2 separate regions of the Homo sapiens genome follow, and region 2 is linked to region 1. Evidence: fine-mapped expression QTL. Tissue or cell type: whole blood. Region 1 holds a variant in brackets; the other region holds the start of a gene. All regions are shown on one strand. Distances are between the middles of the regions.

Region 1 (16,229 bases):
TGTATATGTATCACATTTTCTTTTTCCAGTTTACCATTGATGGGCATTCAGGTTGATTCCATGTCTTTGCTATTATGAATAGTGCTGCGATGAACATACTTGCGGGTATGTCTTTATGGCAGAATGATTTATATTCCTTTGGGTATATACCCAATAATGAGATTCCTAGGTCAAATGGTAGTTCTGTTTTCAGGTCTTTTAGGAATCACTACACTGCTTTCTACAATGGTTGAACTAATTTATACTCTCATCACCAGTGTATAAACATTTCTTTTTCTCCACAACCTTGACAGCACCTGTTATTTTTTTACTTTTTAATAATAGCCATTCTGACTGGTGTGAGATGATATTTCATTGTGGTTTTGATTTGCATTTCTCTAATGATAGTGATGTTGAGCTTTTTTTTCATATGGTTATTGGCCATGTGTATGTCTTCTTTTGAGAAGTGTCTGTTCATGTCCTTTGCCCACTTTTTAATGGGGTTCTTTGCTTTTTTTCTTGTAAATTAAAGTTTCTTATAGATGGTGCATATTGGACCTTTGTCAGATGCATAGTTTGCAAATATTTCTTTCCCATTCTTTAGATAGTCTTTTTACTCTGTTGATGCTTTCTTTTGCTCTGCGGAAGCTCTTACGTTTAATTAGATACCATTTGTCAATTTTTGCTTTTGTTGTGATTGCTTTTGGTGTCTTTGTCATGAAATCTTTGCCCATTCCTATGTTTAGAATAGTGTTGCCTTGGTTGTCTTCCAGGGTGTTTATAGTTTTGGGTTTTACATTTAAGTCTTTTATCTATCTTGAGTTGATTTTTATATCTGGTGTAAGATATATGGCTAGCATATGGCTAGCAGGTTATCCCAGCACCTTTCCCCATTGCTTATTTTTGTCAACTTTGTTGAAGATCACATAATTATAGGTGTGTAGCCTTATTTCTGAGCTCCCTATTCTATTCCATTGGTCTATGTGTCTGTTTTTGTACCAGTACTGTACTGTTTTGGTTACTGTAGCCCTGTAGTATAGTTTGAAGGCAGGTAACATGATGCCTCCAGCTTTGTTCTTTTGCTTAGAATTGCCTTGACTATTCAGGCTCTTTTTGGGTACCATTGAATTTTAAAGTATTTTTTTCTAGTTCTGTGAAGAGTGTCACTGGCAATTTGATAGGAATAGCATTGAATCTGTACATTGCTTTGGGCAGTATGGTGACTGTAAAGATATTGATTTTTCGTATCCATGAGCATGTAATGTTTTTTCATTTGCTTGTGTTATCTCTGATTTCCTTAAGCAGTGTTTTGTAATTCTCATTGTAGAGATCTTTCATCTCCCTGGTTAGCTGTATTCCTAGGTATCTTATTCTTTTTGTGACAGTTGTAAATGGGATTGTGTTCCTGATTTTACTCTCAGCTTGGCTGTTGTTGGTGTATAGGAGTGCTAGTGATTTTTGTATGTTGATTTTGTGTCCTAAAATTTTGCCGAAGTTGTTTATTAACTTAAGGAGTTTTTGGGATGAGGCTCTGGAGTTTTCTAGATATAGAATCATGTTTTCTCCAAACAGGGATAGTTTGACTTTCTCTCTTCCTACTTGGATGTCCTTCATTTCTTTCTCTTGACTGATTGTTCTGGCCAAGACTTCCAATATTGTCTTGGATAGAAGTTGTGGAAGAGGGCATCCTTTTCTTGTGTCAGTTTTCAAGAGGAATGCTTCCAGCTTTTCCCTGTTCAATATAATGTTGGCTGTGGGTTTTTCATAGATGGCTCTGATTATTTTGAGGTGTGTTCCTTTAATACCTAGTTTATTTATTTATTTATTTTATTATTATACTTTAAGTTATGGGGTACATGCGCACAACGTGCAGGTTTGTTGCATATGTATACATGTGCCATGTTGGTGTGCTGTACCCATTAATTTGTCATTCAATTAGGTATATCTCCTAGTGGTATCCCTCCCCACACCCCCCACCCTATGACAGGCCCCAGTATGTGATGTTCCCCACCCTGTGTCCAAGTGTTCTCATTGTTCAATTCCCACCTATGAGTGAGAATATGCAGTGTTTGGTTTTCTGTCCTTGCGATAGTTTGCTCAGAATGATGGTTTCCAGCTTCATCCATGTCCCTACAAAGGACATGAGCTCATCATTTTTTATGGCTGCATAGTATTCCATGGTGTATATGTGCCACATTTTCTTAATCCAGTCTATCATTGTTGGACATTTGGGTTGGTTCCAAGTCTTTGCTATTGTGAATAGTGCCGCAATAAACATATGTGTGCATGTGACTTTATAGCAGCATGATTTATAATCCTTTGGGTATATGCCCAGTAATGGGATGGCTGGGTCATATGGTATTTCTTGTTCTGGATCCTTGAGGAATCACCACACTGTCTTCCACAATGGTTGAATTAGTTTACATTCCCACCAACAGTGTAAAAGCATTCCTATTTCTCCACATCCTCTCCAGCACCTGTTGTTTCCTGACTTTTTAATGATCTCCATGCTAACTGGCATGAGATGTGTGGTTTTGATTTGCATTTCTCTGATGGCCAGTGATGATGAGCATTTTTTCACGTATCTGTTGGCTGCATAAATGTCTTCTTTTGAGAAGTGTCTGTTCATATCCTTCGCCCACTTTTTGATGGGGTTGTTTTATTTTTTCTTGTAAATTTGTTTAAGTTCTTTGTAGATTCTGGATATTAGCCCTTTGTCAGATGGGTAGATTGTAAAAATTTTCTCCCATTCTGTAGGTTGCCTGTTCACTCAGATGGTAGTTTATTTTGCTGTGCAGAAGCTCTTTAGTTTAATTACATCCCATTGGTCAATTTTGGCTTTTGTTGCCATTGCTTTTGGTGTTTTAGTCATGAAGTCCTTGCCCATGCCTATGTCCTGAATGGTATTACCTAGGTTTTCTTCTAGGGTGTTTATGGTTTTAGGTCTAACATTTAAGTCTTTAATCCATCTTGAATTAATTTTTGTATAAGGTGTAAGGAAGGGATCCAGTTTCAGCTTTCTACATATGGCTAGCCAGTTTTCCCAGCACCATTTATTAAATAGGGAATCCTTTCCCCATTGCTTGTTTTTCTCAGGTTTGTCAAAGATCAGATGGTTGTAGATGTGTGGTATTATTTCCGAGGGCTCTGTTCTGTTCCATTGGTCTATATCTCTGTTTTGGTACCAGTACCATGTTGTTTTGGTTACTGTAGCCTTGTACTATAGTTTGAAGTCAGGTAGCGTGATGCCTCCAGCTTTGTTCTTTTGGCTTAGGATTGTCTTGGCAATGCAGACTCTTTTTTGGTTCCATATGAACTTTAAAGTAATTTTTTCCAATTCTGTGAAGAAAGTCATTGGTAGCTTGATGGGGATGGCATTGAGTCTATAAATTACCTTGTGCAGTATGGCCATTTTCACAATATTGATTCTTCCTACCCATGAGTATGGAATGTTCTTCCATTTGTTTGTGTCCTCTTTTATTTCATTGAGCAGTGGTTTGTAGTTCTCCTTGAAGAGGTCCTTCATGTCCCTTGTAAGTTGGATTCCTAGGCATTTTATTCTCTTTGAAGCAATTGTGAATGGGAGTTCACTCATGATTTGGCTCTCTGTTTGTCTGTTATTGGTGTATAAGAATGCTTGTGATTTTCGCACATTGATTTTGTATCCTGAGACTTTGCTGAAGTTGCTTATCAGCTTAAGGAGATTTTGGGCTGAGAGGATAGGGTTTTCTAAATATACAATCATGTCATCTGCAAACAGGAACAATTTGACTTCCTCTTTTCCTAATTGAATACCCTTTATTTCTTTCTCTTGCCTGATTGCCCTGGCCAGAACTTCCAACACTCTGTTGAATAGGAGTGGTGAGAGAGGGCATCCCTGTCTTGTGCCAGTTTTCAAAGGGAATGCTTCCAGTTTTTGCCCATTCAGTATGATATTGGCTGTGGGTTTGTCATAAATAGCTCTTATTATTTTGAGATATGTCCCATCAATACCTAGTTTATTGAGAGGTTTTAGCATGAAGGACTGTTGAATTTTGTCAAAGGCCTTTTCTGCATCTATTGAGATAATCACGTGGTTTTTGTCTTTGGTTCCGTTTATATGATGGATTCCATTTATTGATTCGTGTATGTTGAACCAGCCTTGCATCCAAGGGAGGAAGCCAACTTGATCGTGGTGGATAGGCTTTTTGATGTGCTGCTGGATTCGGTTTGCCAGTATTTTATGGAGGATTTTTGCATCGATGTTTATCAGGGATATTGGTCTAAAATTCTCTTTTTTTGTTGTGTCTCTGCCAGGTTTTGGTATCAGGATGATGTTGGCCTCATAAAATGAATTAGGGAGGATTCCCTCTTTTTCTATTGATTGGAATAGTTTCAGAAAGAATGGTACTAGCTCCTCTTTGTACCTCTGGTAGAATTCGGGTGTGAATCTGTCTGGTCCTGGACTGTTTTTGGTTGGTAGGCTATTAATTATTGCCTCAATTTCAGAACCTGTTATTGGTCTATTCAGGGATTCAACTTCTTCCCAGTTTAGTGTTGGGAGGGTGTGTGTGTCCAGGAATTTATCCATTTCCTCTAGATTTTCCAGTTTTTTTTTTTTTTGGTGTAGAGGTGTTTATAGTATTTTCTGATGGTAGGTTGTATTTCTGTGGGATCGATGGTGATATCCCCTTTATCATTTTTTATTGCATCTATTTGATTCTTCTCTCTTTTCTTCTTTATTAGTCTTGCTAGCGGTCTATCAGTTTTGTTGATCTTTTCAAAAAACCAGCTCCTGGATTCATTGATTTTTTTTTTTGGTTTTTTAATTAATTAATTTATTTATTTTTTTATTATTATACTTTAAGTTTTAGGGTACATGTGCACATTGTGCAGGTTAGTTACATACGTATACATGTGCCATGCTAGTGTGCTGCACCCACTAACTTGTCGTCTAGCATTAGGTATATCTCCCAATGCTGTCCCTCCCCCCTCCCCCTACCCCGCAGCAGTCCCCAGAGTGTGATGTTCCCCTTCCTGTGTCCATGTGATCTCATTGGGATTCATTGATTTTTTGAAGGGTTTTTTGTGTCTCTATCTCCTTCAGTTCTGCTCTGTTCTTAGTTATTTCTTGCCTTCTGCTAGCTTTTGAATGTGTTTGCTCTTGCTTCTCTGGTTCTTTTAATTGTGATGTTAGGGTGTCAATTTTAGATCTTACCTGCTTTCTCTTGTGGGCATTTAGTGCTATAAATTTCCTTCTACACACTGCTTTAAATGTGTCCCAGAGATTCTGGTATGTTGTGTCTTTGTTCTCATTGGTTTCAAAGAACATCTTTATTTCTGCCTTCATTTTGTCATGTACCCAGTAGTCATTCAGGAGCAGGTTGTTCAATTTCCATGTAGTTGAGTGGTTTTGAGTGAGTTTCTTAATCCTGAGTTCTAGTTTGATTGCACTGTGGTCTGAGAGACAGTTTTATATAATTTCTGTTCTTTTACATTTGCTGAGGAGTGCTTTACTTCCAACTATGTGGTCAATTTTGGAATAAGTGCGATGTGGTGCTGAGAAGAATGTATATTCTGTTGATTTGGGGTGGAGAGTTCTGTAGATGTCTATTAGGTCTGCTTGGGGCAGAGCTGAGTTAAATTCCTGGTTATCCTTATTAACTTTCTGTCTTGTTGATCTGTCTAATGTTGACAGTGGGGTGTTAAAGTCTCCCATTATTATTGTATGGGAGTCTAAGTCTCTTTGTATGTCACTAAGGACTTGCTTTATGAATCTGGGTGCTCCTGTATTGGGTGCATATATATTTAGGATAGTTAGTTCTTCTTGTTGAATTGATCCCTTTACCATTATGTAACGACATTCTTTGTCTCTTTTGATCTTTCTTGGTTTAAAGTCTGTTTTATCAGAGACTAGGATTGCAACCCCTGCTTTTTTTTGTTTTCCATTTGCTTGGTAGATCTTCTGCCATCCCTTTATTTTGAGCCTGTGTGTGTCTCTGCACGTCAGATGGGTCTCCTGAATACAGCACACTGATGGGTCTTGAGTCTTTATCCAATTTGCCAGTCTGTGTCTTTTAATTGGAGCATTTAGTTCATTTACATTTAAGGTTAATATTGTTAAGTGTGAATTTGATCCTGTCATTATGATGTTAGATGGTTATTTTGCTCATTAGTTGATGCAGTTTCTTCCTAGCATTGATGGTTTTTACAATTTGGCATGTTTTTGCAGTGGCTGGTACCGGTTGTTCCTTTCCATGTTTAGTGCTTCCTTCAGGAGTTCTTTTAGGGCAGGCCTGGTGGTGACAAAATCTGTCAGCATTTGTTTGTCTATAAAGGATTTTATTTCTCCTTCACTTATGAAGCTTAGTTTGGCTGGATATGAAATTCTGGATTGAAAATTCTTTTCTTTAAGAATGTTGATTATTGGCCCCCACTCTCTTCTGGCTTGTAGAGTTTCTGCCGAGAGATCCGCTGTTGGTCTGAATGGCTTCACTTTGTGGGTAACCCGAACTTTCTCTCTGGCTGCCCTTAACATTTTTTTCCTTCATTTCAACTTTGGTGAATCTGACAATTATGTGCCTTGGAGTTGCTCTTCTCAAGGAGTATCTTTGTGGCATTCTCTGTATTTCCTGAATTTGAATGTTAGCCTGCCTCACTAGTTTGGGGAAGTTCTCTTGGATAATATCCTGCAGAATGTTTTCCAACTTGGTTACATTCTCCCCATCACTTTCAGGTACACCAGTCAGACGTAGATTTGGTCTTTTCACATAGTTCCATATTTCTTGGAGGCTTTGTTCATTTCTTTTTACTCTTTTTTCTCTAAACTTCTCTTCTCACTTCATTTCATTCATTTGATCTTCAATCACTGATACCCTTTCTTCCACTTGATCTAATCGGCTACTGAAGCTTATGCATGCATCACATAGTTCTCATGCCATGGTTTTCAGCTCCATCAGGTCATGTAAGGACTTTTCTACACTGTTTATTCTAGTTAGCCATTCGTCTAATCTTTTTTTCAAGGTTTTTAGCTTCTTTGCGATGGGTTCGAACATCCTCCTTTAGCTCGGAGAAGTTTGTTATTACTGATTGTCTGAAGCCTTTTTCTCTCAATTCATCAAAGTCATTCTGCATCCAGCTTTGTTCCATTGCTGGCGAGGAGCTGCGTTCCTTTGGAGGAGAAGAGGCACTCTGATTTTTAGAATTTTTAGCTTTTCTGCTCTGGTTTCTCCCCATGTTTGTGGTTTTATCTACCTTTGGTCTTTGATGATGGTGACGTACAGATAGGTTTTTGGTGTGGATGTCCTTTCTGTTTGTTAGTTTTCCTTCTAACAGTCAGGACCCTCAGCTGCAGGTCTGTTGGAGTCTGCTGGAGGTCCACTTCAGACCCTGTTTGCCTGGGTATCACCAGTGGAGGCTGCAGAACAGTGAATATTGCTGAACAGCAGATGTTGCTGCCTGATCCTTCCTCTGGAAGCTTCGTCTCAGAGGGGCACCTGGCTGTATGAGGTGTCAGTTGGCCCCTACTGGGAGGTGTCTCCCAGTTAGGCTACTTGGGGGTCAGGGACCCACTTGAGGAGGCAGTCTGTCCGTTCTCAGATCTCAAACTTCGTGCTGGGAGAACCACTACTCTCTTCAAAGCTGTCAGACAGGGACGTTTAAGTCTGCAGAAGTTTCTGCTGCCTTTTGTTCAGCTATGCCCTGCCCTCAGAGGTGGAGTCTACAGAGGCAGGCAGGCCTCCTTGAGGTGCCATGGGCTCCACCCAGTTCGAGCTTCCCAGCTGCTTTGTTTAGCTGCTCAAGCCTCAGCAATGGCGGATGCCCCTCCACCAGCCTCGCTGCCGCCTTGCAGTTCAATCTCACGCTGCTGTGCTAGCAGTGAGAGAGGCTCTGTGGGTGTGGGACCCTCTGAGCCAGGTGCGGGATATAATCTCCTGGTGTGCCATTTGCTAAGGCCATTGGAAAAGTGCAGTATTAGGGTGGGAGTGTCCTGTTTTTCCAGATACTGTCTGTCACAGCTTCCCTTTGCTAGGAAAGGGAATTCCCCGACCCCTTGTGCTTCCCAGATGAGGCAATGCCCTGCCCTGCTCCGTGGGCTGCACCCACTGTCTGACAAACCCCAGTGAGATGAACCCAGTACCTCAGTTGGTAATGCAGAAATCACCCGTCTTCTGCGTTGCTCATGCTGGGAGCTTCAGACTGGAGCTGTTCCTGTTCGGCCATCCTGGAACCTCTCCTACCTAGTTTATTGAGAGTTTTTCTCATTAAGGGATATTGAATTTTACCCAAAGTCTTTTATATAGCTATTGAGATAATTATGTGGTTTCTGTCTCTAGTTTTGTTTATGTGATGAATCACATTTATTGATTTGTGTATGTTGAACCAACTTTGCATGCTGGAAATGAAGCCTACTTGATTGTGGTGGATTACCTTTTTGATGTGCTTCTGGATTCAGTTTGCAGATATTTTGTTGAGGATATTTGCATTGATGTTCATCAAATATATTGGCCTGAAGTTTTCTTTTTCTGTTGTGTCTCTGCCAGGTTTTGGTATCAGAATGATGCTGGCCTCATAGAATGAGTTAGGGAGGAATCCCTCCTCCTCAACTTTTTGGAATATTTTCTGTAGGAACAGTACCAGCTCTTGGCTGGGTGCGGTGGCTCA[C/T]GCCTGTAATCCCAGCACTTTGGGAGGCTGAGGCGGGTGGATCATGAGGTCGGGAGATCGAGACCATCCTGGCTAACACAGTGAAACCCCATCTCTACTAAAAATACAAAAAATTAGCCAGGCGTGGTGGCAGGCGCCTGTAGTCCCAGCTACTCGGGGCTGAGGCAGGAGAATGGCGTGAACCCAGGAGACAGAGCTTGCAATGAGCCGAGATTGTGCCACTGCACTCCAGTCTGGGCGACAGAGCAAGACTCCATCTCAAAAAAAAAAAAAAAAATAGTACCAGCTCTTCTTTGTATATCTGATAGAATTCAGCTGTGAATCCCTCTGGCCCTGGGCCTTTTTTGGTTCATAGGCTATTGATTACTGATTCATTTTCAGAGCTTGTTATCAGTCTGTTCAGGGAATCAGTTTCTTCCTAGTTCAGTCTTGGGTGAGTGTATGTGTCCAGGAATTTATCCATCTCTTCTAGGTTTTCTAGTGTTGTGCATACAAGTGTTCATAATATTCTCTGATGGTTGCTTATAATTCTGTGGGGTCAGTGGTAACATCCCCTTTGTTGTTTCTAATTGTGTTTATTTAGATCTTCTCTCTTCTACATTAGTCTAGCTAGTGGCCTATCTTTTTAATAAAAACCAACTCCTGGATTCATTGATCTTTTGAATGGTTTTTTGTGTCTTGATTTCCTTCAGTTCAGCTCTGATTTTGGTTATTCCTTGTCTTCTGCTAGCTTTGAGGTTGATTTGCTCTTGCTTCTGTAGTTCTTTCAGTTGTGATATTAGGTTGTTAATTTGAGATGTAACTTTTTGACATCGGCATTTAGTGCTATAAATTTCCGTCTTAATACTGCCTTAGCTGTGTCCCAGAGATTCTGGTATGTCATATCTTTGTTCCATTACTTTCAAAGAAATTCTTGATTTCTGCCTTAATTTCATTATTTACCCAAAAGTCATTCAGGAGCAGGTTGTTTAATGTCCATGTAATTGCATGGTTTTGAGTGGTTTTTTTAGTTTTGACTTCTATTTTTATTATGCTGTCATCTGGGAGTGTGTTTGCTATGATTTTGGTTCTTTTGCATTTCCTGAGAATTGTTTTCTGTTTGATTATGTGGTCGATTTTAGAATATGTGCCATGTGGTGATGAGAATAACGTATACTCTGTTGTTTTTGGGTGGAAGGTTCTGTAGAGGTAGGTCACATCCATTTGGTCCAATGTTGAGTTAGGTCCTGAATATCTTTGTTAATTTTCTGCCTCAATGATCTGTTTAATACTGTCAGGGAAGTTTTAAAGTCTCCCACTGCTGTTGTATGGGAGTCCAAGTCTCATTGTAGATATCTAAGAACTTGCTTTATGAATCTGGGTGTTCCTGTATTGGGTGCATATGTATTTAGCATAGTTAGTTTTTTTTGTTGAGTTGGATCCTTTACCATTATACAGTGCCCTTCTTTGTCTTTTTTGATCTTTGGTGGTTTAAAGTCTGTTTTGTCTGAAATTAGGACTGCAACCCCTGCTTTTTTCTATTTTCCATCTGCTTGGTAGATTTTCTTCTATCCCTTTATTTTGAACCTTTGGGTGTCATTGCGTGTGAGATAGGTCTCTTGAAGACAGCATACCATTGGGTCTTCCTTTTTTATCTAGCTTGTTATTCTGCATTGTGGTTTTTTTGTTTGTTTGTTTGTTTTGTTTGTTTGTTTTTGAGACAGAATCTCACTTTGTCACCCAGGTTGGCGTGCAGTGGCGTGCTCTCAGCTCACTGCAAACTCTGCCTCCCAGGCTCAAGTGATTCTCCTGCCTCAGCCTCCCGAGTAGCTGGGATTACAGGTGTGTACCACCATGCCTGGCTAATTTTTGTATTTTTTAGCAGAGACTGGGTTTCACCATGTTGGCCAGGCTGGTCCTAAACTCCTGACCTCAAGTGATCCACCCACCTCTGCCTCCCAAAGTACTGGGATTACAGGCATGAGCCACCATGCCTGGCCTCTGTGCCTTTTAAATGGGGCCTTTAGCCCATTTATAATTAAGATTAGTGTTGATATGTGTAGATTTGATCCTGTCATTGTGTTGTTAGCTGGTTATTATGCTGGTTTGTTTGTGTGGTTGCTTTATAGTGTCACTGGTCTGTGTACTTGTGTGTTTTGTATTGGCTGGTAATGGCCTTTTCTTTCCATATTTAGTGCTCCTTTTAAGATCTCTTGTAAGGCAGGTCTGGTGGTAATGAACTCTGTCAGCATTTGCTTATCAGAAAAGGATCTTATTTCTCCTTTGCTAAGAAGCTTAGTTTGGCTAGATATGAAATTCTTGGTTGAAGATTTTTCTTCTTTAAGAATGTTGAATATAGGCCCCCAATCTCTTCTGGCTTATAGGGTTTCAGCTGAGAAGTCCAGTGTTAGCCTGATGGGGTTCCCTTTGTACGTGACCTGCCCTTTCTCTGTAGCTGCTTTTAACATTCTTTCTTTCATTTTGACCTTGGAAAATCTGATGATTATGTGGCTTGGGGATGATCTCCTTGCATAGAATCTTGCAGGGATTCTTTGTATTTCCTTAATTTGATTGTTGGCCTCTCTAGCGAGGTTGAGGAGGTTTTTGTGGACAATATCCTGAAATATGTTTTCCAAGTTGTTTGCTTTCTCACTGTCCCTTTCAGGAATGTCTGGTGAAATTTGAGCACTTGGTTTGTCTTTCCTATTTTGCTAACACGTTTTCTGGTCTAATATAACCAGTGGGTATGCTTTCTTTTTTTTCTTTTTTGGTGAGGGGAAGGGACTTAATCATATACAGTATTTGTTTTAAGTGAATTAGAAAATTGGGAATATGATTTCAGCCTAACTTGGCCATTGTGCATCTTGCCTCCAGACCTAATAGGAATTACATATTGTTTGAAACCATGGTTAGGTTCCAGATATATGAAAGTAAGCAATCCTAAGACTTACTCTGTTACAGGCACCTAACTAAATTTGATTGATTTAAATTATTTGAAAACAGTTATTTTGCCATTGTGCCTCCCAACTAGCTTAGCAAATACCTAGCAATATAACAATATAAAATACTTCAGGTAACTCTCAATTATTACCTGCATTATGGAGTTGGCTCAGTTGGAGACTTAATACAGCTTACATGCGCTCAAGCAGCAAACTAATGTTTAACTTAAGCAATGGCATAGAAATCATTATTACACTTTTTCTTTCTTTTTTTCTTTATTTGAGGCGGGGTCTTGCTGTGACGCAGGCTGGAGTGCAGTGTCATGATCATGGCTCACTGCAGCCTTGACCTCCTGAGCTCAAGCAGTCTACTCACTTCAGCCTCCTGAGTAGCCTGGACTGCAGGCAAATGCCATCAAACCAGTCTAACTTTTAAATGTTTTTGTAGAAACAGGGTCTCACTATGTTGCTCAGGCTGATTGTGAACTCCTGCGTTTCAGGAGTCCTCCTACCTCAGCCTCCCAAAGTGCTGAGATTGTAGGCCTGAGCCACAGTGCCTGGCCCATACACTTATTTTTATATAATCAGTTTATAACTTACTCTGAAAAGCTCCAAGAAAGATGATCATTGTTAACTTTCAATTATTTAGGTATTTTTAGAAAGCCAAGGAATTGAGTTAAATCCACCAGAGAAGATGGCTCTTGATCCTTACACTGAACTCCGAAAACAGCCTCTTCGTAAGTATGTCACCCCATCAGACTTTGATCAACTCAAGCAATTTCTCACCTTTGACAAACAGGTAAGTGACATAGGAACCACAATAGGCTTACTTATTTCCAAATGTGACCTACATTTATTGGCAAAAGGTTTGGGTAGCTGTATTGGTAACTATTTTGAAACATTACAGCTATAATTGAACTGTTTGGACACAGTACTGTCTTTCTGCTTTCATCAAGGGTTACAGGTACAGGAATGCCTACATTTCATATGGAGATCCAAAGAAGATCGTGGAGTTGCGGAGTTGTTTTGTGAACCTCACCAAACATTTAAATCTCAAAGCAATTCCTGAGCTACATCTGCTTCCCACCTTACGTTTCCAATTGACAATTTCTTTCCCTTAAAATGAGCTAATTTCATAGACTCCTTTGTGAAACCATAAATCGATTATTAGGAAATTTCACAAATATGCATACATGTAGGTTGTAATGTTAAAATGTTTAATTTCACAGAAGCCCCACTACAGATGCTTCCTTGTTAAATGTTATATTAATATTGGAGTCCAGAATGTTCTGAGCATTTTCCAACTCTGTTCCAACCTTCCTAATCCTCTCCCTTGTGAGCTGATGTGTATAAGCAGATTTAAATCCTTCCCTTTCTGTACTAAAGGGAGAAAGAAAAGGAAGAGATCACCCTCAGTGCTTCTTTGCTGCTCCTTTTCTTTAGACATTTAACCCCTTTTAGTTCAGAAAATGTAAACTAGCACTAGCATGGTCTTTTAAGGATTTTGTTCATATCAGTCATATATCTGTTATTATTTTGTATTTAAAGATTGTGTTTATTCCCACGATTTGAAGAAGCCTAGCCAAAAAAAAAAAAAAAAAGATTGTGTTTATATTATTGCTAGAAGATATGTGTTGATGGGACCAAAAAAAGACTGGTTAATAAATAAAAATTTTTTCTACACTAATTATATATAAACCATATTCACATGTACCTTTATTAATATATATATACCACTATGTAAAGAACTTCATTGCTCTTTTAATTTAGCTTCTCTTTCACTGACTAATATTTTGGATCAAAGTGAGCTCTTCTTTTTTGGCACAAACTTATAATCCTATTATTTAATTCTTTCCAGCTGCTGACATATAGTACATAATTTCAGATGTTTTAGTATGTTTGATGAATATTTCTTTTTTTTTCAATTTACCCCATCTGAAATTACTTCATAGTCTTTCCAGCTAGTCTTTCCATCGTTGATACATAATTGCCAAAGTAGCCAAGTTGAACTCCCTACTTTTAGGATTCTTGAGTCACTACTTTGGATTCTTCAAAGGTCCTTCGATTCTATGCAATCTGGGATGATACAGACAGCATGTATGGTGAATGTCGGACCTACATCATTCATTACTATCTTATGGATGATACGGTGGAAATTCGAGAGGTCCACGAACGGAATGATGGGAGAGATCCTTTCCCACTCCTAATGAACCGCCAGCGTGTGCCCAAAGTTTTGGTGGAAAATGCAAGTATGTTTGATTCAGTTTATTCTCTGTTACTTGGGATGTTTTTAGGTTCTTAAAGGAGTTACTTAATCAGTATGCAAAATTCGTTTATACTTGGAAGCCTCTAGCTATTTTTGCTTAGATGCTCAGAAAATGGCTTCCCACAGCTTTCCTCCTTTACTTGCCCCTCGGTCCAGGCGTGCCCCCAAGACAGTCTGGTACCCAGGTCAAGGAAACAAAACCAAAACAACAGTGGGAGATTTATTTAAAGTGCAGCAGAGCAAGGTTTCTGAACTGAAACAATTTAATATTAGATTTTTAATGCATTTTTCAAACAGGCTTGTTTTCATTCAAGGATATGAATGAAAGCTTAGCTTTTCTTTATATGCTTTCCTGACTTTGCTTCTCACTTCAACTACTTCCTAAACAGGAAGTTTCTATGTGGTTTAACTTGAGATTGGAAAAGGCATGTCTGTGACTCATAGAGGTGAGGTCCATTGTGTCAAACCCAGCTCATTCTTTACTGGTTTAAAATTACCTAGCATGGGCTGGGCATGATGGCTCACTCCTGTAATCCCAGCACTTTGGGAGACTGAGGCGGGTGGATTGCTTGAGCCCAAGAGTTTGAGACCAGCCTGGGCAACGTGATGAAACCTCCTCTCTACAAAAAATACAAAAATTAGCCATGCTTGGTGCCGCACACCTGTATTCCCAGCTACTTGGGAGGCTGAGGTGGGAGGATCATCTGAGCCTGGGAGGTCGAGGCTGCGGTGAGCTGTGATTGTGGTGCTGCACTCCAGCCTGGGCAACAGTGAGATCCTATCTCCAGAAAAAGAAAAAAAGTTACCTACCATATTTGAGAGTGGCAGTGCAACAAAATGGCAGCAAATACCTGCTGTTCACTGTTTCCTGGGATGAGTAGGCTTGCTTTAGTTATTGTCTTAGTAGTTTTTACATTTCTCTTAGAATAATGTCATCTTGGTCACATGTAATGACTGATAGCTCTTATGTTTGGGTGGCTGACAGGATTCTGTAAATGTGTTCACTGATTTTTTTTTCTTTTTACTATATTTTTTGGGAATTAGGATATAAGAAATTTCAGGTATTGGGGCTGGGCACGGTGGCTCACACCTGTAATCCCAGCACTTTGGGAGGCCAAGGCAGGTGGATCATGAAGTCAGGAGATCGAGACCATTCTAGCTAACATGGTGAAACCCCATCTCTACTAAAAATACAAAAAATTAGCTGGGCGTGGTGGCGTGCACCTGTAGTCCCAGCTACTCAGGAGGCTGAGGCAGGAGAATTGTTTGAACCCGGGAGGTGGAGGTTGTGGCGAGCCAAGATCGTGCCACTGCACTCCAGCCTGGGTGACAGAGTGAGACTCCATCTCAAAAAAAAAAAGAAAAAGAAATTTCAGGTATTGAGCAAGAAGTTTGTCTACATTAGAGGTTATAAATAAATGTGTAGTCTGAGGCTAAATTCAACGTGTCTGTACATATTGCTTCACTTGCACAGTGCTTTTTTATGAAAAATGCAGTATTATTTGTGGGCAAGGAGTTGGAGGTTTCCATCATTGAGAGAATGGATAAGCAAAAATGTAGTGAAGGTACATTTTGATTAATATACAGTAGTTAGAAGCAGTAAACAAGATGTACACAGAAAGCAAGTGGATGGATCTTAAAAACATAGTGCTGTGTAGGAAAAAATACATGAAATTAGATATATAATGCTATAACACATGCAAAACATAGTACACGTAGGACACATTCAGTCACATAGCTGCATTAGAATGATTGCATGTGAGGAGAGGAGAATGAGATTGGGGAAAAGGATAAAAGGGAGTGAAAATTGTCATCATTTTAGAATTAGGAAAGTTTATGTTATATATTTTTTTAAAAAAATGAAAATACTGCTAATTCAGCTTGTATTCTCAAATAGAAACAACTGGATCTGTGCCCTAGTTCAACATAGTTTGGCTTCTACCTACTATACATATTCTTATAATCAGTTCTCTACAGAACCGTCTTAGAGTTCAATGACAATGGGACTAATATAGTAATTTTGGCCTTTCAGAATGCTTAAACAAGCCTGAAATCCATGCAGTTCGGAGCTAACAAACATTAGATTTACAATAGATAAAGAAAATGGATAGGAATATATTCAGGGTGGCATGAAAAGTCTCACTGAAACTAAATCCCTTTAAATGACAGATTCCAGGTTTGTCTCTGCTTTATCAATGTGACCTATATTGAAAACTTAATATATAATTATCCTCTTCTATAATTTCCCAATTAAAAATTTTTTATCAAAGTTGCATGGAGAGGCAGCCTGGTGGCATATATAGGGTTCTTTTAAAAAGTAGGAAACAGGCTGGTCGCTGTGGCCGAAGCCTATAATCCCGTCACTTTGGGAGGCCAAGGTGGGAGGATCACCTGAAGTCAGGAGTTCGAGACCAGTCTGGCCA
Region 2 (16,229 bases), 30 kb before region 1:
GCCATTTTAAACAGGATCAGGGAAGAATACCAAAAAAGGTGATGGAGCCAGCTCTGTTTCTCACCCAGGCAAAGGGAAGAAGTGCAAGGGCTCTGAGCCTAGGGCATGCCAGGAATGGCCAGGAGGGAAAATGCAGAGAGGGAAAATACAGCAGAAGATGAGGACAAGTTGTATAGGTCTTGTGAAGAATTGCTTTTACTGTGACTTTGGGAATGGGGTATGTGAGGAAGAATTCTGTCCAAGGAAATTCAGGGTAGCTATCTATCGATATGGATTAATTACTAATTGCACATTACTTTGCCTTTAGGAAATAGAGCAAATTCTGTTTCCTGCAATATGCACAAAACCAGACTGACATCAAGTTATTCCATGTGTAGGCCAGCAAACTCTGTGTTCCTGTGGCCACACTCTCATGCTTGCAGAATTCTTCCCAGATTCCTCCCAGAGCATTTTTAAAGTGCCCAGAATGTTGACCTCTGCTTCTGACATAGGCTTTGAATGTTTTCTCATTCTTTGGACACTAGTTTGTACTCTGGATAATCCTCTGGGCAGAAATGACATGACATGTCTAAGGCAGAGCCTATAAATTGGGGATAATAACAGTTTACATTATCTAGTACTCACCACTTGCCAAGAACTGAGCTGAGCTGTTTTCCTAGATTCCTTCATTTAACCCTCATAGTAGCCCTGTGAGGTAGGCACTAATACTGCCTCCATTTTGCAAATGAGGAAACTGAGGCATAAAGTAAATTTGCCCACAACTACCTGGCTCTTAAGTAATGGAATCTCACAGACACTCAGGCCTTTGAATCCAGAGTCTATATTCTTAGCCACTAAAATTAAGTGAATGTAGAAGATTCTTTCCTCTAACTTCTCACATTGTCACTTGTGTGAACCATAAAAAGTTTAAAATTAAGAGGGAAGTGTAATGTAGATTTCCATCTCCCCACCCCTGATAAATGAAGTAAACCTAAGGATGCAGTTCTCATTTTATTTCTAGACACTTTAGCCAAGCAAAAGTCCTTATACTGTTATTGTCGAATGGTACCAAGGCTGAGATTCCTAAGTGTATTTTGTGCTAGAATACAACATGGCGCTACTCACATTACAATCTCAGAAGCCCTCTGTAATGACCTGAAGGATCTGAAGGACAGAAACTCACTTTAAGAACCACTGACTTCAAATTATTTTTGCATGCTTCTCTAATGTTTATAAAATGACTCTAGTGAATACTTTCTCATCTTTAGGACCTTTTAATATATCTTATTCCTCATTAAAATAAATTTGAGCATGATTCCAGGCTAAACAAATTTCTTAAAGACAGCAATGGCAACATGCAAAATATCTCCATCTAGTGTTTTCTCTTTTCTAAACAAGAACAAATTATCTTGGAATCTGACTAATTTTGCTCCAGGAAAAATACCTTTGCACACAGTACCCGGCACAAAGTTTGTGTTCGGAAAGTGCTAGTGGTAATCACACAGTCATTATTTCTTTTTCTATTTTTTTTTTTTGAGATGGAGTTTTGCTCTTGTTGCCCAGGGTGGAGTCCAGTGGCGCAATCTCAGCTCACCACAACCTTTAGCTCCCAGGTTCAGGCGATTCTGCCTCAGCCTCCCTAGTAGCTGGGATTACAGGCATGTGCCACCACGCCCCGCTAATTTTGTATTTTTAGTAGAGACCAGGTTTCTCCATGTTGGTCAGGCTGGTCTCGAACTCCCACCCTCAGGTGATTCGCCCGCCTCAGCCTCTCAAAGTGCCGAGATTACAGGTGTGAGCCACCGCACCTGGCCCACAGTCATTATTTCTATCACTTCACGCTGAGCAGGGTGTTGTGAGTTCTGCACAAATTCATCCACACTCTCCAAGGGCTCCCAGACGTCTCTCACCAGAACAGGAGCTCTCTGTCCTTGGGAGGGATTTTTCTCCACCCACAACGGAATAAGATGTAGTTCATCTTCCCTGGGAAATGGGGGATTTCTTGCTTTCCTCCACATTCCTTCCCTGACATTCAGTCTGCATGATCAAAGACTCTCTCAGGCATCAGGAAGAACCTTCCATTGGTACACACACACACCACCCAGACATTCTGGCAGCACCGCCCTTTCTCACTATGGTCCCCAAGTGTTCTCAGACTACAGAAGAAACCCTACTGGTCCACATACTCATTTTTTCTACCTTTTGATTCCCATCTATTATGTGTTTGTGTCCCTTAGATATATTGAAGTCCTAAACCCCGCTGCCTCAATTAGTGACCTTATTTGGAGACAGGGTAGTTGTACATGTAAGCAGTTAAGATGAGGTCATACTGGACAATCTCTTAATTCAATATGACTGGTGTCCATATAAGAAGAGGAGAAGACACAGAGGAAAGACAGCCATGTGAAGACACATAGACACACACAGGGGACAGCATCATGTGACAATGTAGGCAGAGATGGGAGTTATGTATCTGCAAGCTAAAGAGTGCCAAGGATTTCTGGTAATAAGCAGAAACTGGGGGATGGGGTGTGTGGGTTAGGGTGGCGGGGCAGGCAGAGAGAGAGAATGGCCTTGCCAGCACCCTGATTTCAGACTTCTAGCCTTCAGAACTGTGACAGAAAAAAAATTCTTTTTAAGCCACCCAGCTTGTGGTACTTTGTTACGATGACCCTAGAAAACTTAATACAGCATCGCAGGGCCAACCTCAGTTTTAACCTCCCTATGAAATTGACAGTTTTTTCTAACCAGTGGCTCTTGGTCTCTCAACTCAGCAAGCACAGGTAGAGAATGGGACACGAAGACCCCTCCCTTCCCCCCCATCTATACCCTATTAAAGGGAGAAATGGGATTTGCAGATCTCAGCAGAGATACAGATGGGAAGCTTATCATGTGTGTGAATACAATAGAACCTCTGTGGTAGGGAGTTAAGTACAGAGAAAATGTTGTGAACAGCCAGTTTCAGTGTGGCTGTGTTTCCCATCTGAGTCTACCCTGTGTAAGCAGGTGCTCCTGGGTTGCACCTTGGCAACTTCCCACCTGGGTCTTTGCCTCTACTCTTGGTACTCACAACCAACTCATCTACCTGCAAGCACCTTCATCTTTGGGTGCAAAGGTTTTATATTCACCGTCTGCCTCGCATTCTAGTGGTGATAAAAAAAATAGTAAACCAAACAAATAGGGAAAAGACCATGGCTCCACGGAAAGCTCCAGCCATCTAGCCTCCTCTGTGGCCCACCAGAAAGCTGTTGTGCTCTTTTCATAAACTCTACGTTGAAAAGAGATTAGATGCCCTCCTACCCTCTAAAAGGATCTGGGTGTGTGTGTGTGTGTGTCTAAAAGGATCTGGGTGTGTGTGTGTGTGTGTGTGTGTGTGTATGTGTATGTGTGTGTGTGTGTGTGTGTGTGATATTTATTCAGAGTTGGTAGGTGGGGGGTGGGTAAAAAGGAAAGAAAGACTTAACTCACACAAACCAAACCCTTCTACATGTTGCATTCTCTAAAGTGCCCAACATATTTCCCTACCCCCCTTTTCTCCTTTCTTTTTACCTTAATCTGTCTTTAATTTTCCATAGTTTTTCCAATTCCCAGTCACTGACCAAACTGTCCATTCACCATGCTCCCCCAGACAATGGTAATAGCAAACAGTCAGTGAGCGCTTACTATGTGCCAGGCACTACAGTAAGTGCTAACATATATGAACTCATTTAATGCTCACAACAACCTTGTGAATTGGGAATAACAATTATTATTCCTGTTTATGGCTATTAAAAGGTTAAGAAACTTCTGCAGGGTCACAGAGCTGGTAAGTGGTAGGATTTGCAACTCTGCAGTCTGACTCTGCAGTCCATAATATTTTATTTTTATTTTTTTATTACGAAAAACCTTGAGCATATACAAAAGTAGATAGAATTGTATGATGAATTCCCATGTAATCACATACACAATTATCAAATCATGGGGAATCTAGTTTCATCTACATCCCTACTCACTTGCTTCTGTCCATATTATTTTGGACATTATATAATTATATAATATATACTATCTCATATATTATATAAGATATTATATAATATCTATAATTTTATAGATGTTATATAATTTTTCCTACAATACATGCTTTTTATGTATCCTTAAAAGATGAAGACTCTTTACACAAGAATACAATATCATTATCATGTCTAAAAAACTGAAGAACAATTCCTTACCATCAAATATCCTGTGTTTGAATTCCCAATGGTCTCACAAATGTGATAATTATTTCAAAGTATTTAGTTTAAATCAGGATCCCAATAGGACCCACACATTGCAATTGGTTGACTTTTTACTTAAATCTCTTTCTAATTTATAGGTTTCCCTTCTACCCCAGTCTTTTTACTCCTTTCCAATTCAGTTGTTGGCCAAACAATCATTTGTCCTGGAGAGTTTCCTACAGTCCACTCACTTTACCGCTACATCATTCTGCCTTTGGGGTACTATATTGTAGACTTTTCATTCCATAGATTTTAAAGAGGGGAAAACTCAATGAAGTGATTTCTAGACTCACTGGAGCTTTCATGAACTACATGAAATTATAAGTACATGTGAATGTGTGCATTTTAGGGAACCAAAGTCTAAAGCTTTTACAAGATTTTAAAAATGATCCCATGACCCTCAAACAATTAATGGTCATTAGCTCTGGTCCTGGCTTTTCATTTTAGAGATGAAAAGCAGGAGACTTGGATAGGTAAATTGTCCAAACTCACACAAATATTCTTAACAGGACAGGAATGTGGCTCTCAGGACCTAACCTGTTCTACTTTCTGTTTCATGCTGCATATGTGAAAGGGGAAAAGGAAAGTGGTTTGAGATGCTCAATAGAAGGTGTCAATTTCCCTATTGTTTCAAAGTTGCCATTTACCTGAATTAATGAATTCACTTCTTGTCCACATTTGGAATCTAAAACTCTAGTCAATGTTACTACCACAACATTCTCACACTTCTCTTTCTCCGTACTATTGAGAGCTTTATTATGCCAGAGATGTCTCACAAGCAGGATGCCAAGATCAATGATCTGTCCTGAGCTAAATGAGGACTGTCTTTCCTAGATGTCAGAGGATTGAGGTGGAGTGTAAGAAATACTCAATTGGGAACCAGTCATTAATTGATAGTTCCTTGATCTCTTTTGGTCTGGAGATTTCTCATTAGTAAAATGAGCTAACCGGACTGTGTCAATTACTTTTCAAGCATTTTGACTGTGATCATGATATACTCTCACTATGAATGTATATGTATGTATATATCTTGAAAAAACTTTCACTGAATTATTCTTACAAACAAAATGGAATGCATCTGGATAGTTTCTATTCTATTCTTTTTTAAAAATAATTCTCGTTGTGGTCACAACCTATTAAGTTGATTTGAAGAACTGCTAAAGGAAATCTGCAGCAGTTTGAAAAATACTTTCCCACGTGACCGCTGAGTCATTCATTCATTAACTGTAGTAGGTCAGTAATTTTCCAACTATTTAATGGACATCTATGTAGTGCTAGGCACTGTGATGAGAGTTAGGAAAATGGCAATGAAAAAATGAAGACCATCTTCTTATGACGCTTATATCCTGTGAAGTATGTTCCATCAGCTTTGACAAGGAAAGAGAATTCCAACGGAATCAGCTAAAGCTATTGAATAGGTTTGACTTAAGGGAGGAAAAAGCAGCAGAAATACAGGTTTTTCCAAACCCCAGGCAGGAGCCCACATCAAGACTAAAATAGTCTAGACCCAAATGATGTAATTTTTGTGTCAAATGAAGATCTCCTGTGGATCCTAAATCTAATCACTGGATGTTTCTCCTTTTCCCATACTTTGCAAAGATCGAAGTGGATGACTGGGCCCTCTTTTTAGATAAAATATTTCAGAGGCCATGGAGTGATGGAAAGGAATGCTAGAGAGCACTCTGACTGAGGGACACCCCCTGGCCATATTCACGTGCTCACCACACCCCCAAGTACCTGCAAAACCTGCAGGTATGTAATTGGTTGTTTTCTTTTCCAGAAATTTTGCTGTACCATTTTTACCCAGCAGAGGGAAGCAGAACACCAAATCACTGCAGAAGTAATCCAGGACACATGCACACACAGCCCTTTGGTATTTTTTGTCCTGTGAATTTAGGTATTATAGAATGAGAATGTCACAGTTTTGAAAACAAATTCTGGGTAAAGTCAGCTCTGGGCAAAATGCTGAAAGAGGAGAGGTTTATTTTAGCTGACTGCTTATGGCCTGTCCCATCAGGATTGCCTGGAAGACATTACCCAGCCCACAAGGCCCTCTTTCAGGCTTGGCTCCTGGCAGTCTGACCTTTCAATTTTTTTCCATTCCCCAAGTTTTGGAACACCTGCTAAAATCATGCAATATTTCTGTGGTCTTCTGAGTCAGGCTTTATGCAATGGCCTTTCAATCATGGCATTTCCTACTTTAGCTGCCAGGAATGGTCAGTTTCCTGCCCTCTTTTATATATTCCACTAAGTGGGAAATGGTGGGTACAAACTGAAGTGCAATGCATGCTAAGTGGTCATGTAGACTGGAGTGCAGTGGCATGATCTCTGTTCACTGCAACCTCTGCCTCCCCGGTTCAAGCGATTCTCCTGCCTCAGCCTCCTGAGTAGCTGGGACTACAGGCATGTGCCACCACGTCCAGCTAATTTTTGTATTTTTAGTAGAGATGGGGTTTCGCCAGGCTGGTCTCAAAATCTTGGCCTCAAGTGATTTGCCCACCTTGGCCTCCCAAAGTGCTGGGGTTACGGGCATGAGCCACTGCACCCGACTGGGATACAAACTCTTAATCACAGCAGACCTTCTGAGGATCCAGGTACCTTTCTGAAGCCCTGCCTTTCCTCCCGCCCCACTTCTTTACAGACTTGTCCCTGTGCCTTTTAACACTAATGCAGTACGTCTGACTTCCCCTCCTCAGAGATGATAGCATTTTTAGGAGGCCATAGACCAACAGAAGTTGTCTTCATGCATTTCTGGGGTCCGAAAGTAGTTAAAACACACCCCTTAGCCATTTAACTGGCGTGCTTTTCTGGAAAGAAAGGCATGAGCAGAGGGCACTCCTCAAATAGAAACAGATGCGATAATGGACAATAGGCTTAGGCATGACTCAGCCTTTCCAGCTCCACACGCTCCTTCCCTACCCAACCCAGGAATATAGATCCAAGTGCAACCATGCACTTAGTCAAGAAGAGCTCTTCAAAGTGTGTCCTAATGCCATGAAATTTACTTTTAATAAGAGAGTGGGTAGGGAGGGATCATGGAACTTCTAACAGTTTAAGGTTATCATGAAGAGTCAGCAAAAATTACAGTAACCAGTGATTCTGGGTAATCAGCGTCAATGAGGTGGAGAGAAGTGGGAGAGGTGCCTTATCTTTGAAAGGTTAAACTTGCCATCTTTTTTTTTTTTTTTCCTTTTTTTGAGACGGAGTTTTGCTCTTGTTGCCCAGGCTGGAGTGCAATGGCGCGATCTCGGCTCACTGCAACCTCTACCTCCCGGGTTCAAGCGATTCTCGTGCCTCAGCCTCCCAAGTAGCTGGGATTACAGGCATGCGCCCCCATGCCCAGCTAATTTTGTATTTTTAGTAGAGGTGGGGTTTCACTATGTTGTCCAGGCTGGTCTCAAACTCTGACCTCAGGCGATCCACCCGCCTCGGCCTCCCAAAGTGCTGGGATTACAGGCGTGAGCCACCGCACCCAGCAAACTTGCCATCTTGACATATTCCTCCAGTGACTGGCATCCATCCTCAGTTGGTGTCTAAGGTATAATACAACGGACAGGTACTTTAAAAGTTTTCAGTAACTTCCACAATGCTAACCAATGTTTGAGGAATATGATTACATTTATTTTTTTAAAAAATAAGCAAGTTTTGTAAAAAGCACCAAAGGCAAAAAAACTTCATTGAAGTTTTTAAAAAATGTATTAAACTGCTGCATTAAGGTAATGTACTTACAGAAAAAGAAAAAGAGGTTTAAAAAAGGACAAGAACAGGAAACAGATGTAGTAAGGGGAGAAGAGTTAGAAAGGAAACTCTCTGGGCAGGGTATGGTAAGCAGGCATCAATAACTGCCTCAGGTGCCACTTAATGCATTCATGTCCTGGGCCTCCTGAGCGTCACACAAATTAGTGAAACCCAACAGGGGGATTTGCTCTGACAAGCAGCAATAAAAGTAAAGCTGCTGTCTGTATTGGCAGTAAACTACCTGTGACACTGAGATATGCCTTCTGTGTCTGGCTTATTACTCTATCATGTTCCTAAACTGGCTTGTCACAAACGCCTGTTACAAAAATCAGATTCCTGGCCTCCATGTCAGACCTAATGAATCCAAATCTCTCGGCACGTGGGTTTTGATTACTTTTTATTTTTAAGCTCCTCAGCAATGATGGATAGCTTTCTCCCCCCCCCCCCAAAAAAAATGTTTCAGGAATAGGATTATGTTTCTTTTAAGAAAAAATAATTTAAGCAAGTTTTGTAAAAAGCATCAAAGGCTATACCTATGATGCTGACAATATTTCACCTCACTTATCTGCTTCTTTCCCAAGACTTAGTCTTTCTCTTTGAAGGAGCTGTGTTCCTCCTAGTGGTTCTGATCTTTTTCATTGCAGCTGCAGGTACAAACGAGGGATTGAGGTGACCACCCTTCAACCTGCAGCTCTTCAGTCAACAAAAATCAAGTACCTATCAGAGTGCACCCTGCCCTGCAGCACATATTCAAGGCTTTCCCTACAAAAACAAAGGTGTTTAACCGAAGGGATTGATGGTAGAATAAAGAGAGCTGGGCGCGGTGGCTCATGCCTGTAATCCCAGCACTTTGGGAGGCGAGGTGGGCGGATCGCTTGACCCCAGGAATTCGAGACCAGCTTGGGCAACATAGTGGGACACTATCTCTACGGAAGGAGGGAAGTAGGGAAGGAAGGAAGGAAGCAAGGAGGGAAGGAGGGACGGAGGGAAGGAGGGAAGGAAGGAAGGAAAAAGAAAAGAAAGGAAAGAAAGAAAGGAAAGAAAGAAAGAGAAAGATTGATTTTAAAAAAGAGTTAAAAGGGGAAAAATACAATGTGGCAGTGGGAGAATTAAGGATGAGATGATTGCATTAGTTCATTGACCATCCCTGAGCAACAGAAACACAATCATGGGTAATCCTCGGCCCCTGCCTACAAGAAGCATGGGTCTAGTTTAGTAGCACTGCCAACTGGACCGACCATTTACACTTCTGTGTGAAATGGGGCAGAGGGGGGAGAAAAGAGTGCCTGAGCTCACAGCGTTGGCGGGGCGCAGTGAGGTCCGCCAGGACTAGGTGGAAGGAGAGAAGGAACGTCCCTCTCTGCAACTCATCTAAGGGCCTGCTCGGACCCCGGATCTCACAGCGAGAACTACCGCCTCGCTACACCCGCCTTTCCCCGCGCCACCCAACAGCTCCCACGTCTCATCCTCCGGGAGCGGGGCGGGGCGAAGCGGAAGAGGAGGGGCCGACACAACCACGCCCACTAGCCGCGCTCCAAGGCCGCGGCCCACTTACCGCGAGAACGCGGAGTCCTGCGGATGGCGCACGCGCAAACCTCCTGTGATGCCTGCGCCTCCTGGCCCCGCCTTCCGCTCGTGGGAGTTCCGGATGTTTAGCGTTACCATGGATCCTGGAGGTGCCCGCGAACACTGCTTGTCGCCTGGGCAACCGGAGAGGACGAAGCAGGACCTAGGTGGCGGCGGTGGTACCGGCTGCAATGGTGTCCAATCCCGTGCATGGCTTGCCCTTTCTTCCGGGCACGTCCTTTAAGGACTCTACGGTGAGCAGTTATCTGCCAGACTCCCACCTGTCCCCACCTTCCAGCAGCCCAGGAGGTTTCCCCGCTCAGTGCACCTCCATTCCCCTCCACTCAAGTCTGTCTTCTCTCCAAACACGTCTTCTGTCCTGACCCTGTTCTTTATTCTGGGCCGAACTTCTGCCGTTCTTCCCTAGCCATCCTCATCCCCTCTCTCCGATCCTTTGCCCTCCGCCTCATCCCTCTCTAGTTTTTTCCCACTCCATCTTGGCAGTGTGTTGGCGCCTTCATTCTCATCCCGTTAGCCGCGTTCTTTCTTACGGCCCTGCTCCTCCAAGCCCCTGCCTCTTGTCCCTTTAGATCACTGTTTCCCCCACCCTACTCCCAACCTATCTCTGGGCCCTCTCCCTAGCTCGTTCTCTCACATCATAACCTGTCTCCGTCCATCGCCGCCCTTAAAACCCCCCGCCACTATGCACCTTCAACCTCATTCCCACAGGTCCGTCATTCCCGCCCCACCTCTTCCTCTTCTGAATCCTGTACCCGGTAGTATCTCCCACTCCCAGCTCCATTTCCTGTTTTGTATGTATATCGATTCCGCTCCTCTTCTTTCCGCCAGGTCTTTTTCCTTTCTTCTTTATGCTTGCATCCAACCCCATTCTTTTTTCTCCATCTTCTACATTTTCCACAATTTAGTCCCATCCTCTCCCCATTCCTTTCTTTCTCCGTTGCGGGTTTTCCCCAAAACTTGCTCACCTTCCTCCCAAAGCATCTTTCCCTGCTTTGTAAGAGATATTCCTTTCCAGTTCCCTCAAGAATTGATTAGTTGCTGTTTATTCTTCCCCGGCCCTGTTCTTTTTATTCTAACGTTTTTGTAAAAAGATTCCTGTTTAGATTTTGTTTTGCTCCTTCCCCAACCTTGTGTTTTTATTTGCATTTTCTAGACAAAATTTTTTAAAAAGTAGCAGCAGCTTGGATTCTTTTTTTTTTTTAAACTCTTGCCACAGTTTAGCTCTTAAAATTATTTGGTTTGTTTTAATTCTGACAGGGCTACTGAAATGTATGTGCTGAAAAATCAATAATGAGATTCAGTAGACTGATCATCATAGATGAGCTAACAGTAGTTTATGTTTATATAGTTTAATACTTTAAACTCTTGCCTTCCTCTCCAGCTTCACAAAGTTAAAATATTTTGTCAATTTATTTTCTTTGGAAGAATCAATTTAGAATGAAATCGAAAGTTTGGTGAGAGAATTTGTATTCTGAATCTCTGTAATTATCCCTGCATTAAGACACAACATCATAGATTTTTAGTTTCAGTGGACTTTTCAGTTTTATGTAATTTAGAAAATGTTGTAGGCACTTGCCTGCCCTATACAGGATGAGCTTAAGCTTTTGGTGTTGGTGAGTATAGACAGGGCTGAGTTGATACAGGGAATTACAGAGGTGTGGATGGAAGTGCAAAGCTCTAAAAACATATTGCTGTATTACAAGTAAGAAGAACTGTGCATTGGACATATTTCAGATTTTAAATACACTGGCCAAGTGTCAACCAATTTGCCCTATTTGAAATTTGAAAAGCATCGTCAGTATATCTTCAGCAGTGAAGGACTGAATATGTATTAATGTAATTCTAAAGACATGCAGATAAGAAGTTAAAAAATTTTTAAAGGGGAGTGGGAAAACGATTTTAAAAAAAGACACACAGAAGGTGAACCATAATGGACAAGAGGGGTGGAAAGGGCCGAGGTTGCCTTGCCTGGGGTGTCTGTGAGTTATGGCTGAATGATGGTAGAGACATTTGTCTAAAACAAAGAAATAAACTGAAGTCACTGATGTTGCTTCTGTCTTTGGTGGTGGAAGAAGAGCTTGAAGTTCCATAAATTACCCAATGAGGATGTCAACTCAGCGCATTTTGTTCTATGTCATGTTTACTATATACCTGGAGCAGTCCCTGTCAACTGACTTGTGACTCTGAATACATGACCTTTAAAAACAAATGTCATACATTTGTTTTTATGGGTTATATACAGTTTATAACCCTTTTAGCAAAAGAAGTTTATTCTGTTGTACCTTTCATGTTAGTACAGATCTTGAAAGATGGTAGGCTGGGCTCTAAAGCAATTAGGATGTAGAAAGTTTTTTTCATAAAAATATTTTTTATGATTAATCTTAAATTGTATCTATGTATATATTTGAATATTATAGATAAGTAATTGTGAAAGTATCCTCACAACAGAAAAAGGAAACCATTAACATAACCTCTAATTTGCCTTTCTACTCTTTTTTATTTAATCTTTTAAATAAAAATGTGTTCATTGTAAAAAATCAACATAATTTAGAAATGTATAATACAGAGGACCAAACCAGTCTCTTCATGCACATATTTCCATGCTTATAATTGCAGTACACATATAATTTTATATGTTGCTTTTTCAGGCTTATTAAATCATAAATATTTTCACCAGGTTGCCACGTGATCTCTAAAATCAATATTTTAATGACAGCACCATAATCCATTGAGTGAGTTTTCGATCATTTACTCATGTCTTCATATGACTGTCTTTTAGATTGTCTTCAACATTTACCATTGTAATGGGCAGCTTCAGGCATATAGTTCTTTCTCATAATTCTGAATCATATTCGTAAATAAATGGTCGGGGTAGAATTATTGAGTTCAAGACTTTAAATATATACCATCCAGTTGCTTTCCAAAGAGTTGTAAGAATGTATCACTGTCATTGTGACAAGAGGGACAGGTAAAAATAAATTCATTCCATGTAAAAATAAAATTCACAGAACCGTATCTTCTAGGTTCTACAGTTTTTACGGCCCCAGATATCAGATGAAAAACATGAGAAGACTAGTGAAAAACTTAAGAGTATAGATGAGATACTCTTTTAATCTCTCATGCAAGGTGAATTGGTAGTTAAATTGGGCATTACAGAGCACAGCTTTAAATTTTACTTTAAGCTTAGGTGGCTACTTCGCTCCTTGTTCTTGTTCAAGTGTTTTAACTTAAAATACAGAATCTTTTAATGTAGGTAAGCTTTTGTTTTGTTTTGTTTTTTTGAGACAGAGTCTCACTGTTGCCCAGGCTGGAGTGCAGTGGTTCAATCATAGCTTATTGCAGCTTGGACCTCCCAGGCTCAAGTGATCCTTCCACCTCAGCCGACTATAATAGGCACAAGCCACCACACCCAGCTAATTTTTTTTTTTTTTTTTTTTTTTTTTTAGTTTTTGTAGAGACAGCATCTTGTTGCCCAGGCTGGTCTCGAACTCTGGGGCTGAAGTGATTCTCCCTCTTCAGCCTCCCAGAGTTCTGGGATTATAGGCACGAGCCACCATGCCCAGCCTTAATGTTGGTAAGCTTCTTGATGTAAGTTTTGTGATGCTTATAAGCAAAGATTCAAGTTATATTTTTAAAAGTTAGTTTTTTTTTTACCTAACAAATATTTGTCTAATGTTATTAATGACACATTCTTTTCTTCTTCAGAAAACAGCCTTCCACAGAAGTCAGACGCTGAGCTACAGGAACGGCTATGCAATTGTTCGACGTCCAACAGTTGGGATAGGCGGAGACCGGCTCCAGTTCAACCAGCTGTCCCAGGCTGAGCTGGATGAGTTGGCCAGTAAGGCACCAGTCTTAACTTATGGCCAACCTAAACAAGCCCCACCTGCGGATTTTATTCCTGCGCATGTGGCCTTTGACAAAAAGGTATCATCTGGAATTTTAGGGTACCCCTTGAATTAGGGTCTGAGAGCCAACTGCTTGCAAAAAAGTTAAAACAGTAAACCACAGAATTTCCAAAGGGCTCTGAGGAGAAAATTGTTCAGATGCCTTAACCCTTAGTCATGGACAGCTGAACTCAGGCTAAAAAGAGGCTTTCTTTAGTCAGGAAGCTGATTACAGGGAGTAAAGTAGTTCCCTGTAGACTTCACCAGACTATTTTCCAAATGCAGTTAAAGAAAAGTTGGCTATAATTCTGAATTCTTGAATTTATATTCTATGTTTATCAGCCGTGTGTTCTCCACTTTTTAAAGGTAACTGTATTCTGTAATGGTGACATATCTAATCTTCATGAGATGCAGAATATCATTATGAAAACAATGACTCCATCTATTGTCAGTTTTCTGCAAGGCAGTCTCCATAAGTTTTTGGTTTTCAGGGAACATTTCATGTTTGATATTACATAACCAATGGGTGGTATAACATTTTTGTTTGTTTCTCATTTATCTTTATGTTTTTGCAATGTGAGTTTCCTCATTTCCATCTATTGACATTACCACATCATTCTTGTTTTTCCTTGTCAATGAGCCTCCTCTTTTCACTAAAGTGAAGTAGCCCTAGCCCTGACCATGTAGCAGAATCACTGGCGAGATTTTTAAGAAAGTTACGTTATTCCAACCCTCATCAGTTCTAATTTCCAGATGAGCTTTATGTGTAACTGGTTCTGAGAAGTACTGATCAGTTTTGATAAGTTAGCTTTCTTAATTTACTCTTAGTCTGTTTCTTTTCTTGTCTTAATTTTTATTTTATTATTCCTGTTAAATGTCTATAACATTTTCATCCAGCCAGCCAACTTTTATTGAGTACCTGTTGTAAGCTAGAGGCTGGGGAGGAGCTATGCCATTTACATGATAGTCACTTATTTTTAAACAATTTCAGTCTCTCAACTAGAATCTGTATCATTTCCTCTTCCCCACTTAACTCATTTATAGGGACACATTCACATATGCATTCATAGGCCGAACCTAAACATCCACTAAACAGTATGATTTATATAATTGGATGTATCTTTTCCTTTTGCTTGTTTCTTTTGTTTATTTGTGGCTTTGACAGACATTGCAAAATCAGCAGAGAAGGGAGAGGGCTGAAAATACAAGAGAGAAGTGGGATAGGCACTAAATAATTACCAAGATATGAATCCTGGTATGTTTAATTTTTACTGAAAAGAATAGTAAGTAACTGTTATAAAGTAGAAGGTGATAAAGTGATATATGTCGTAAGAAAGTATTAGTAAAATTCAGAGGAGAAATTGCGCTTGAGTAGGAAATAGGCTTCCTATTTTTTGTTTTCTATGTTATTTTACACTAATTGTTGTTACTTAATTTGTACTTATTTAATATTCATAATTCATTTCTTTAAGGATAGTGCACATAAAAATATTATTTTTATTTTCCAATTCATTTTACTTGGATCATCACAATTTCTAGATAAATGAGCCTTAGCATAGATAATGGGGTAGAGAGAAGCTAAATGCATGACTTTGAAACTAAGTTTGTTTGTTTATAATAAGGGAATTATGGTTTCTCTGAATTAAATGAAGGTTCTAATTTTAAATGAAGGACCTCTAATACCCAGAGGTCCACATAATAGCCAACATATTTGTCTATATTTTGGAAATTCTTAGGACTGTTCCTCATAGACAGAATATAACTTCATTTCTTACTTAGGTAATAAAGACCAGGACATCTATTCCAAGTGCCCTCATCTTTTCCCCTTGCTCCTGTATAATTCCAGCATCACCTACTATATTGTGTTTCCCAGACTGACTTCCAGCTCTTTATTTCTGATGTTCTTCTTTCATCTTTTTCATCTTCAAGTTTCATATTATTTCTATTTCAGACACTCTAGTGACTGCTTCTCTAGCTAGAGTCATATCATCCTGTCCTCTTTCTATAATACCTTGTGATGCCTTTAAGCAAGATAACTTTGTTTCTCACTTGACTGTCAAATCACTTACAATCTGACTTCTCCCTACCCACAGCCCCAGAATACTTTCTCCTAGGTAGCCAGTGCTGTCCTTTTACCAGATCTAGAGAGGTTTACTTTGCCAGCATTGTCTTTGGCTTGTTTATGCCATCTGACACTGTTGACCCTTCCTCCCTTCTTGAAACTGTGCTCTTCTTTTGCCTCCATGACTCTCATTTTCCTCCTTCTTTCTATGTGGTTGCTTATTCTTTAGCCTCCCTTCCTCTTTTCAATTCTTAACTTACAAGTATTTTCAAGGCTCTATCTCATTCTTTATATAATTTTCTTGAGATCTCACCCACTTTCGTGATTTCAACCGTCACCTCACCGTAGAGAATGTCACTATTTAGTTCCAACTCTGACATCATTGAGACTCCAGATCTGTATCCCCCTGGCCCATGGGATATCTTCACCTGGATGAACTGTTGGTACCTCAAGTTCTGTATGTCTCTAACTTATCTCTATCCCTCACCTTTTCCCATAGATCTGCTTTCCCTGTGTGGTTCCACTAGGTAATCCAAGCTTGAAACCTGAGCCATCTTTGGCTTTTTCTCTCCTTTATCCTCCACACTTAATGAGTTGCCAAGTCAAATATCTCTCACTTTCATTTCCTCTGCCACTATCATAGTTCAGACAAGCCAAATGACTACCTAACTGTTGTTTTAGTCTCATTCCTAGTCCTTATGCTTATAACAGGTATGCTGCCTT

What was found. PIP is the estimated chance that this variant, and not a neighbour inherited with it, causes the effect.
Region 2: EFHC1 starts here. The variant in region 1 is fine-mapped to the expression of EFHC1 in whole blood (TOPMed, PIP above 0.99).

What each region holds. Positions count from the first base shown.
Region 1 is chr6:52,440,499-52,456,727 of GRCh38, forward strand. EFHC1 (EF-hand domain containing 1) reads left to right here. Exons shown (of 11, transcript NM_018100.4): 4 at 12,190-12,339; 5 at 13,597-13,789. Among named protein-coding and RNA genes, the nearest start is that of EFHC1, 28 kb to the left of the region's middle. The variant C/T (reference allele first, on the strand shown) is at 8,623.
Region 2 is chr6:52,410,684-52,426,912 of GRCh38, forward strand. EFHC1 (EF-hand domain containing 1) reads left to right here and starts at 9,659. Exons shown (of 11, transcript NM_018100.4): 1 at 9,659-9,790; 2 at 13,263-13,484. The coding sequence starts at 9,728. It overlaps LOC124901331 (a long non-coding RNA gene), which reads right to left and starts at 10,298. Exons shown (of 2, transcript XR_007059611.1): 1 at 9,526-10,298; 2 at 7,217-7,765. RefSeq lists a silencer at 5,908-6,202 and an enhancer at 9,628-10,219.